Regions from separate parts of the Homo sapiens genome. Here regions 1 and 3 are each reported to be linked to region 2. Evidence: microRNA targets listed by miRTarBase, many of them from high-throughput screens and not tested one by one. Region 2 holds a microRNA gene; each other region holds the end of a gene's coding sequence. Distances are from middle to middle.
The links. Region 2 holds the annotated microRNA hsa-miR-3164 (UGUGACUUUAAGGGAAAUGGCG, at 1,876-1,897, shown strand). A microRNA usually pairs through its seed, bases 2 to 8, with sites in the 3' UTR of a target mRNA and lowers its output. Matches are read on the target gene's strand: a 7mer-m8 pairs with bases 2 to 8, a 7mer-A1 pairs with bases 2 to 7 and ends in A, and an 8mer does both.

Region 1: miRTarBase lists FAT3 as a target of hsa-miR-3164. The part of its 3' UTR that is shown has no 7-base or 8-base seed match.
Region 3: the mRNA of TMEM101 is a reported target of hsa-miR-3164. Seed matches in the 3' UTR shown: 8mer at 2,089-2,096.

The regions. Positions count from the first base shown.
Region 1 is chr11:92,890,780-92,893,938 of GRCh38, forward strand. FAT3 (FAT atypical cadherin 3) reads left to right here. Exons shown (of 28, transcript NM_001367949.2): 28 at 1-3,159. The coding sequence ends at 334. Among named protein-coding and RNA genes, the nearest start is that of LINC02746, 23 kb to the right of the region's middle.
Region 2 is chr11:69,081,310-69,084,468 of GRCh38, forward strand. MIR3164 (microRNA 3164) reads left to right here and starts at 1,867; the gene lies at 1,867-1,949. It overlaps TPCN2 (two pore segment channel 2), which reads left to right. Exons shown (of 25, transcript NM_139075.4): 18 at 91-190; 19 at 2,636-2,707.
Region 3 is chr17:44,009,333-44,012,491 of GRCh38, forward strand. TMEM101 (transmembrane protein 101) reads right to left here. Exons shown (of 4, transcript NM_032376.4): 4 at 1,856-2,904. The coding sequence ends at 2,596. Among named protein-coding and RNA genes, the nearest start is that of TMEM101, 4.1 kb to the right of the region's middle. RefSeq lists a silencer at 1,929-2,223.

The DNA.
Region 1 (3,159 bases), 24 Mb from region 2:
CCCAGACTGCAGGAGAAGGCCCCAGTTTCATCCTAGCCAGTATCTCCCTCCTCACCCATTCCCCAACGAAACGGATTTGGTGGGCCCGCCTGCCAGCTGTGAATTTAGTACTTTTGCTGTGAGCATGAACCAGGGCACAGAGCCCACAGGCCCAGCAGACAGCGTGTCTCTGTCCTTGCACAATTCCAGAGGCACCTCATCCTCGGATGTGTCTGCCAACTGCGGCTTTGACGATTCCGAAGTAGCCATGAGTGACTACGAGAGCGTGGGAGAGCTCAGCCTCGCCAGCCTTCACATTCCCTTTGTGGAGACTCAGCATCAGACTCAAGTGTAGACATCACATCTTGGGTACTTCACCCTGTTTGTTACAGAAAAGTGGAAGCAGATTGGCTGGGCTTCTGTCCCAGTGGAGCATTGTCTGTGGAATGAGAAGGGAATACTGTATTTTTCCACTAGAAACTTCTTCACAAGTCATACTGTCCCAACAAGCAAGCTTGATTCCAGTTGGGTGAAAATGAAAGGCTCAGAAATTGTTTTTGAGAGGTGACTGGTAATCCTTGATGTAGGTACCTATGTTCACAGCTAAAAATGCAAAGAGGGAAAAATTATTTCACCCACTAAGTTATACAGCCAGTCTTGTATGGCTTTGTGCAGTATTGTGCCCTGGAAAGTGTTACAGCATCAGTCCTTGCAGTATTAAAAACTGGCAACAATCAAAGAGGCATTGTTGCATGTAATTTTGAGCCAATGAAATGAAAATAGTAGTAATGATTGTTGGAAAAGTTAGTCTCTTAGGCGAAAGAGAAGAGAAACAAATATTATTAAACAAACCAGAAAATGGGCTGAAGCCTTTTAAATCAACTCTATTTTTTTGATAAGCTGCCCAATTTTCAGCTATAAAATTAGGCTTGAATAACATGTTTAGTATGCTCAGTTATTTCTGTTTGTTTGTGTTAAGCATCCAATCTAATATAGTTGGGTTTTATGATCTTCAAGAAAGGTATCAATGAAGAGCAACATGAGGCTTTTTGGGTTCCATTTGGTGGGTGGGGGAGGAAGTTAAAGTTGTTTGAACATTAGAAAGAATGTGATTATCTGGTTGGTTTTGTGTTTTCTGGTAAATATTCCAGTTGGTAAATCTAACATTGCTACAGAAGTTGGCTTTGTTCATATAGCTTCTCTACAATTAGATATTTTTAGAAGTTTAAGCAAAACTCACAAATTCAGGGGGGAAAAAAGAAAAAACGATACCTTCAAAGTTTGCGGCCTAGATAATCACAATTCTTCATAATGCAGAGGAAAGGTGTCTGTTATTCTAAATCGGTAGCATCACCATTATAAATACAATTATGTTAAGAAAAGAGGAAAGTAGACTAGTTATTGTGTATAAATTATAATAGTGTGTGTGTGTCTGGGCCTATGTACAAATATGTGCTTGCACTCAGTAAGGCTGCTCTTGAGGAAAGCTAATGTGAAGGTTTTGGGAAATGGACCATGTTGAAAATTCTGCCGGCGAGCATGGCATACCTTTCAATTTCTCTGATCTCTATGGTGTTAGAGAAACATCAAATGCCATATTTTACTCTGGTTCAGTTAACTTTATTTTGGTACTGCCAATAAAGCAAAATTGTGCTTTTTTTTTTTTTTCTCAAGACAGAGTCTTGCTCTGTCACCCAGGCTAGAGTGCAATGGCATGATCTCAGCTCACTGCAATCTCCACCTCCTGGGTTCAAGCGATTCTCCTGCCTCAGCCTCCCAGGTTGCTGGGGTTACAGGTGTGTGCCACCACGCCTGGCTAATTTTTTGTATTTTTAGTAGAGATGGGGTTTCACCATGTTGGCCAGGCTGGTCTCAAACTCCTGACCTCGTAATCCACCTGCCGTGGCCTCCCAAAGTGCTGGGATTACAGGCATGAGCCACCGTGCCCAGCCCAAAACTGTGCTTTTTAAAAACAGTATTTTGTTATAATTTTCCAGAACTTACCTCTGTTTTAAAAGTGTGTAATGTTTGATTACACCCTGGGATTCCCTTCTCATCTGTGGGCTTTGGCCATGATTTCCAAAATTAACAGGAGAATCATTCCACTGGAAATATAACAATCCAGTCCTCAAAACTGAAAGTTGACAGGTTGAGGGACTTTCCTTTTTTGCTTCAATCAGATTACGGCCGCCTGTGCAGTGGCCATGGTAAATATATGCATATTTGCACTATCTGCTTAATGAGCAAATCTGTGTCCACAGTTTCTGATGACATATGGCATTGGTGTGTAAATTGTACTGTCCCTAGTCTGTGCATTATTCACTCAGACATATTTTTAGTTATTTCAATTGCGTTTAATCCACTTCTTTTTTATGAGTCAGTGTTTCTGAATGTTTATGCAAAAAAAAAAATCCTTTTTCATTCCCAAACTTTCTAAGTAAGTGGATACACTACACTTCACAAGTTTTCCAGCCTTTCTCTTCCTGTCTCTTGGTCAGACCTACTCATGGAGGTATTATCCACACTGTGATCTTGAAATAAATGAATTTCACTAAGGCTGCTTTCGAGAACAAAGTCTTTGGTATTTTTCTTATGTAAGAAGCACATTTGCAAGAATCATGGAAAAAAATGACAAACTAATGGCCTAGAATAGAGTGACTGCTACACTTTAAGTAATGCAATGACATAAAAACCATCAAAGTAAAACCAACATGTCATTTCCTGCCCCCAGGAAATATTAGAATGAGATTAATGCTGATGAGTCCCTACTGCTTACACAGCATCTCTTTGAGGGAGAATGCCTGACTGACACAGTAATGAAAGAATAAATAGATCCTAATGCAGTCATGAAGCCACTGAAGAAAATTGTGCCCACCCTTTGCTGTGACCTATATAAAATATCTCTTTCTTTGGGATATCATCCCCTGATTTTCTGCAGAATAGCTCTGCAGCTAAATATATACCAGGCAAGCATGTATTGTGTTTTGATTTATTATCTTTAAACACATGATATCTCTTCACTTTTTGGAAAGTTAGATTTCTCTGTAGATTATGAAATGCTTTGCAGTCAGGCCAAGATGCTACTAGGTGGGGATGATCACTAATTCAAAAAAGCTGGAAGAATCCTATTTGCTAGTCCAAACTCCTTATTTTATCAAAGAGGAAACATACCCAGAGTGG
Region 2 (3,159 bases):
CGCCTCCGTCCAGGAACCCGCGCGTTTCCTTGTCTCCTCCCTGTGGGGCTCCTGGGCTCCTCCCAACCCGCCTCCCGTGTCTCTCCCCAGGAGGCCGGAGATGGTGGGCCTGCTGTCGCTGTGGGACATGACCCGCATGCTGAACATGCTCATCGTGTTCCGCTTCCTGCGTATCATCCCCAGCATGAAGGTGTGTGCCGGCCCCACCCCCACTCGCCCCACCCTCCTGGGTCATGCTGCTGCGTTGCTCCAGGGTGGGTGAGCCTGGGGCAGGAAGGGCCCGAGGACTGTGCCCGTCACCCTGGGCTCCCTGGCTGCACCCTCAGCTCTCTGCCGTGCTCTTGTGATGCTGGGGAAGGGTCATTAGAAGCAGGAGAGCCCAGCCCTGCATTTCTGGGTTGGGAGAGGAAGGCGGGCAAGGGTGTGGCGGGTGCAATGCTTTGGCCAGTGGCAGGAGCTCCTTGGGGCTGGAGCCCTGGACACCAGTGCTCCCCCAGGTCTCTGAGGTTCCCAGAAAGGCCTTTGCCATGGCTCCCAGGGTGCTATTAATGAGGGGCAGTGGTATCCCTGGCCAGGGAGCTTGTTTCCAGGATCCTCTAATGCGGGCGCAGGTGGCTCATGACCATCTCTGAGGGCTGGTTTCTCTTAATGCACCGGTTAGGAGCAATGGGCACCTTAAAGGGGCAGGCAGGCAGAGGTCGGGGGTCTGGGCCTTGCTGCTCCTGGCATCATGTCCTAAGACCCATGTTCTGAGTGTCCAGGTCCCTCCTCTGTCCCCGTTCATCCTTCCTCTGAGCTGTGCACCTGTCCCACCTGACAGTATGTCCCACTTGAAGGCAGCTCAGGGGTCCTGAGCCTTCCTACGGGGCTGCTGTGCTGGGACCTTCATACGCACACACACGCGCACACGTGTTCACACATAATTACAGCCATACAAGCACAATCATACATATATACAATACAGCCAAGCACACGTGATCTCACACACAACCACACATGTGACCATGCACATGCATATACACACACAATCACAGGCACACATGATCATACACAGTCACACATATACAATCATGTTTGGATACAATACACATCATCATGCACATACACACGTACATTAATACGCACGCCCGCATCACCGTATGCACAGATAATCACATGCAAATATCCATGTGAACTCATGTCCGTGTAAGACGCATGATCGTGTGTGCACACATCGCATGCAGATATCCATGTGAACTCGTGCCCGGGTAAGACGCATGATCGTGTGTGCACACATCGCATGCAGATATCCATGTGAACTCGTGCCCGGGTAAGACGCATGATCGTGTGTGCACACATCGCGTGCAGATATCCATGTGAACTCGTGCCCGTGTAAGACGCATGATCGTGTGTGCACACATCGCGTGCAGATATCCATGTGAACTCGTGCCCGTGTAAGACGCATGATCGTGTGTGCACACATCGCGTGCAGATATCCATGTGAACTCGTGCCCGTGTAAGACGCATGATCGTGTGTGCACACATCACGTGCAGATATCCATGTGAACTCGTGCCCGGATAAGACGCATGATCGTGTGTGCACACATCGCGTGCAGATATCCACGTGAACTCGTGCCCGTGTAAGATGCATGATCGTGTGTGCACACATCGCATGCAGATATCCTTGTGAACTCGTGCCCGTGTAAGACGCATGATCGTGTGTGCACACATCGCATGCAGATATCCTTGTGAACTCGTGCCCGTGTAAGACACATGATCGTGTGTGCACACATCGCATGCAGATATCCATGTGAACTTGTGCCCGTGTAAGATGCATGATCGTGTGTGCACACATCCACAGTAAGGCCTCAGTGCTATCCACAGGTTCTTGGAAACTGTGACTTTAAGGGAAATGGCGCACAGCAGACCCTGCAATCATGCCGTTTTGCTTGAAGTCGCAGTTTCCCAGGACCTCTCACGTGAGTATATACATGCTCACGATGACACGCAACGTGTGCACACGTACATGCTGACTGGTCTCCACTGTGGCGTTCAGCTGTGTTGTCTAGTTTGGATTCCTCAGGTGGGTTGATGGGGCTGATGTGAAGGCCTTTCTCCCGGCTAGGCTGTGATGAGGAGGAGCGGCTCTTTGGAGCCGGGGCCTCCCTGCTGGTTCTCAGAGGCCCCTTCTCAGACTCAGTTCCTGCAGGTGCTCCTGCCACCTCTAGCTCTGCATTTCTTTGGCGTCTCCAGGCCACAGAGTAGCTGACCCACCTGCAGTGGGTTGGGAGGCAGAGAAGGGCCTCCCACAGGAATTTGAAGTCCGTGCTTGAATGAGGCTGGGGTGGAGGTGTTGGGATGCGGGAGTGGGTGAGTGAGTGCGTGCGGGTGGCGATGCAAGCGTGTGCGAATGCGTGTGGGTAGATGTAGGTGTTGGGGTGCGAGGGTGTGTATGGGTGGACGTGGGGGCCTGACAGGCTGTGTGGGTGTGTAGAGGCGTGTGGGGGTGGCTGTGGGTCCAGGTGTGTGTGTGTGGGTTGGTGGTCATTGGCCTGCCCCATCTTGCCTTTCTGTCAGGGTCAGCGTGGTGGGCCGGGATGGTGTCCCCTCAGTGGGGCCAGGAGGAGTAAGGGCTGTGCTCTCTTCCTGTCCTCAGCTGATGGCCGTGGTGGCCAGTACCGTCCTGGGCCTGGTGCAGAACATGCGTGCGTTTGGCGGGATCCTGGTGGTGAGTCCCAGGCTGCTGCTGGTGGCGGGTTATGCACTGGAGTGGGAGGCTGGGAGGCTGGCGGAAGGCAGTGCCGGGCCGGCTCACTGCTCTGTCGGTAGGAAGGTTCTTGGGTTCGGACGGCAGCAGGTTCCTGAGGCCAGGGAAGTACAGGGTCGGGGTAAGAAGCCAGAGGCATCCCCTTCTTTGTACAGCAGGGAGCTCGGGTGGTGTGGCTGGTGGCCCTGCCTGAGCATCCTTCCCTCCCATGGCAGAGACTGTTTGGTAATTTTTGAGTCTCTCGTGTTTTCTGGGTTGTGGATCTCGTTGAGAAAGTAATGACAGAAATTTAAGAGGCGCAGGGCTTTGCTCCAGGGACCCCAAAGCCTGCACAAGCCCTGGGATGAGGACTTGGTCGAGGCTCCTTTCTTAGAGGAATTTCAGGGACTCACAGCCACATTTGCTGAGCGAGA
Region 3 (3,159 bases), not on the chromosome of region 2:
CAAACTCCTGGGCTCAAGCAATCCTCCCTGCTTGGCCTCCCAAAATGCTAGGATTACAGGCTGGGAGCAAGATCTTGAGGGCTGGGGAATCAGGGGACTCCTGGAGGGAGTAGAAGACTTCTATGATGAATGCTGCCACCATCTCCCTCCCAGAGATTAGGAAGCATCCTCCCTTCCACAGACCAGGCCACAGCAGCCCCAGCTCCCCTTGCCTGTGAGTGCCTCCACCCACAGCTCCCTTTCTAGGCTGGGCTCACAGCCAGACCCAGGCATCAGTGGCGGACCGTTTACCTGCAAGAGCCCAGAGAAGTTAAAAGATGGCTTTGGCTTAAAAGCTCAAACTTGGACGTTTTCCCCTAGGCCCTACTAGTGGTTGTGTCCAGTCTCTACAGGACTCGATGGGCAGAAATCCAAAGCCCAGGGGTTTCATTTGACATTTTTTGAAGCTCCATAATGTAGCAGGCACCATACCGGCTGCTGCTGGGGTGACTTTCTGGCAGACACATAGACAAGAAGGGAGAAGGTCGCCGGATGCGATGACTCACGCCTGTAATCCCAGCACTTTAGGAGGCCGAGGCGGGTGGATCACGAGGTGAGGAGATCGAGACCATCTTGGCTAACACAGTGAAACCCCATCTCTACTAAAAATACAAAAAATTAGCTGGGCGTGGTGGCGGGCGCCTGTAGTCCCAGCTACTCAGGAGGCTGAGGCAGGAGAATGGCGTGAACCTGGGAGGCGGAGCTTGCAGTGAGCCAAGACCGCACCACTGCACTCCAGCCTGGGCGACAGAGCGAGACTCCGTCTCAAAAAAAAAAAAAATTAGCCAGGCATGGTGGCGGGCACCTGTAATCCCAGCTACTCAGGAGGCTGAGGCAGGAGAATCACTTGAACCCGGGAGGCAGAGGTTGCAGTGAGCCGAGATCACACCACAGCACTCCAGCCTGGGTGACAGTGAGACTCTGTCTCAAAAAAAACAAAAAACAAACAAACAAACAAAACCGTAGTCCCAGCTACTCGGGAGGCTGAGGCAGGAGAATGGCATGAACCCGGGAAGCGGAGCTTGCAGTGAGCAGAGATCACGCCACAGCACTCCAGCCTAGGTGACAGAGCAAGACTCCGTCTCAAAAAAAAAGGGAGAAGGTCAACAGGGAGACCATCATGGCACAGTAGGGGCTGGAATAGAGCAGCCTCTGTCTCCCCTCAGGAGATGGGTCACAGTGAGTACATATCTGGACTTCACCATTAGACAGACCTGACCTGGAATCCAGCTCTGTGGGCTGGATTTGCTCTGTGGCTTGACCGAAACTGCTTATCCTCTCTGAGCCTCCATTTCCTTCATGTATAAAGTGTAAAATATTCCACTTCACAGTGGACACTTCACAGTTCTCTCCCTCTAGCTGCTCTCACCAAAGATGTCTTCATAAGAACCAGCTCCAAATGGGGAGAAAAAGACAACCTACAACAAGAGGGACTGAGGTGAGGGATTGAAAGCATATAGTACAATGAGGATTTTGAGATTCTTGAAAAAGAGAGCCACTGGGCACAGTGGCTTATGCCTGTAGTCCCAGCACTTTGGGAGGCTGAGGCTGAGGCTGGAGAATCACTTGAGCCAAGGAGTCTGAAACCAGCCTGGACAACAAAGTGAGACCTTGTCTCTAAAAAATAAAGAAGTGAAAAATTAAAAAAAAAAAGAAAGAGAGAGAGCCAAAGAACTGTGGGAAATCTTGGAACAGGGGAAAGATCACGGGAGGCCCAAGGTGGGGCTTGACCAGATCTAGTGTTTCAAGAAACCCAAGATCAATCCCAGCCAATGGCAGAGTTCCCTGTTGGGGAGAACAGAAAAGCAAAACCAAATGTCTATATAAAATGTTTATTTTTGGAGGACTGTGTGGTCTGGTGTTTGGGAGGGAACTCCACCCCCACCAGGCCAACCATGGAGCTAGAAACAGAGACAGCAGGAAGGGCAAAGCTGGCCACTGCCTGCTCCACCCCTTCACAGCCCAGAGCAGAACAGGGTCTGCTCTACTCTCAAGGTGAGTGACAGAGAGCCGGTACTGTTTCTGCCCCTGGCATACCCTGAGAACCCATGTGACTTCTGTAGTGCTCAGCCCCTGTGCCCTTCCTGGGCCTGATCCACATGTGTCAACACACGCACTCCCTCTCACAGTCTCCAAACAGCACTGCAGAGCCTAGCTGCATCTGCCAGGTTCAAAGAGGAATTTTTCACATTTGCTCACTTCCAATCTCCATCTTCCTTCCTCTGTCTCCCACTCTCCCACTCTCAGTAGCCGCATCCCAGCCCTGCCATACTCCCTTCTCAGGGACAGGAGACTCAGTGGGCAGCTGGCCTCAGCTCTCCTAACAGGAAAAAAACCTGTACAGCATTAGTGCCAGGGCTCCTGCCCTCCCAAGCGCTGAGCCCAGAAATTTGGACAAATGAGCTGCCTCTTAACTGCAAAAAACAATTTTAAAAAAGCAAAAGATCAAACAAACAGACCAAAAAGCATAAATAAACAGCAGCTGGGCCAGCAAGGAGGAAGGCAGGGTGACCCTCAGTGGCTCCCTGTGCCCATCTCAGCCTCTTGCCATAAAACTCAGCCATCAGTGGCCAGGATGACAGCAGTTCCGAAGATGCCCACACTCTCTCCAAGGAGCTTCATCTGGTTCCAGAACTCAACACGCCGCGTGTTGTGCCAGTAAGCAACATTGCCATCAATGAGCAGCATGACAGGGGGCAGCAGTACAGCCAGGATCTGGGCAGCGAGGGTCACGTAGTAGCCTGACAGAAAGGCCAGGGCCAGGATGCCATACAGCACGAAGAACAGCTGGATCATCAGCTCCCCTCCTGGGAGATGGTTCAGATACGCCAGCCGGTCCTCCTTGCTGTGCTGCAGTGAGTAGGCCTGGAGACATAACATCCTCTAAGACTCTCCAACAGGCTCAGAAGCCTGTCTGGGGTAAACCACCCCTGAGATGGCACCTGCAAATGAGTCCCTGCAGATGGGCTTCTGACTCCCCTCTTGGACTGGGGAACCTCTGAAAGTAGGGCCTTTGTCTCCCCCTCGGACTATGGAGCCCCAGGAGATTAGGGCCCATGTCTCCCCTCACCCTAGGGGCTATGAAGGAAGTGTATTTCCACAGTCAGACTAGAGCTCCCA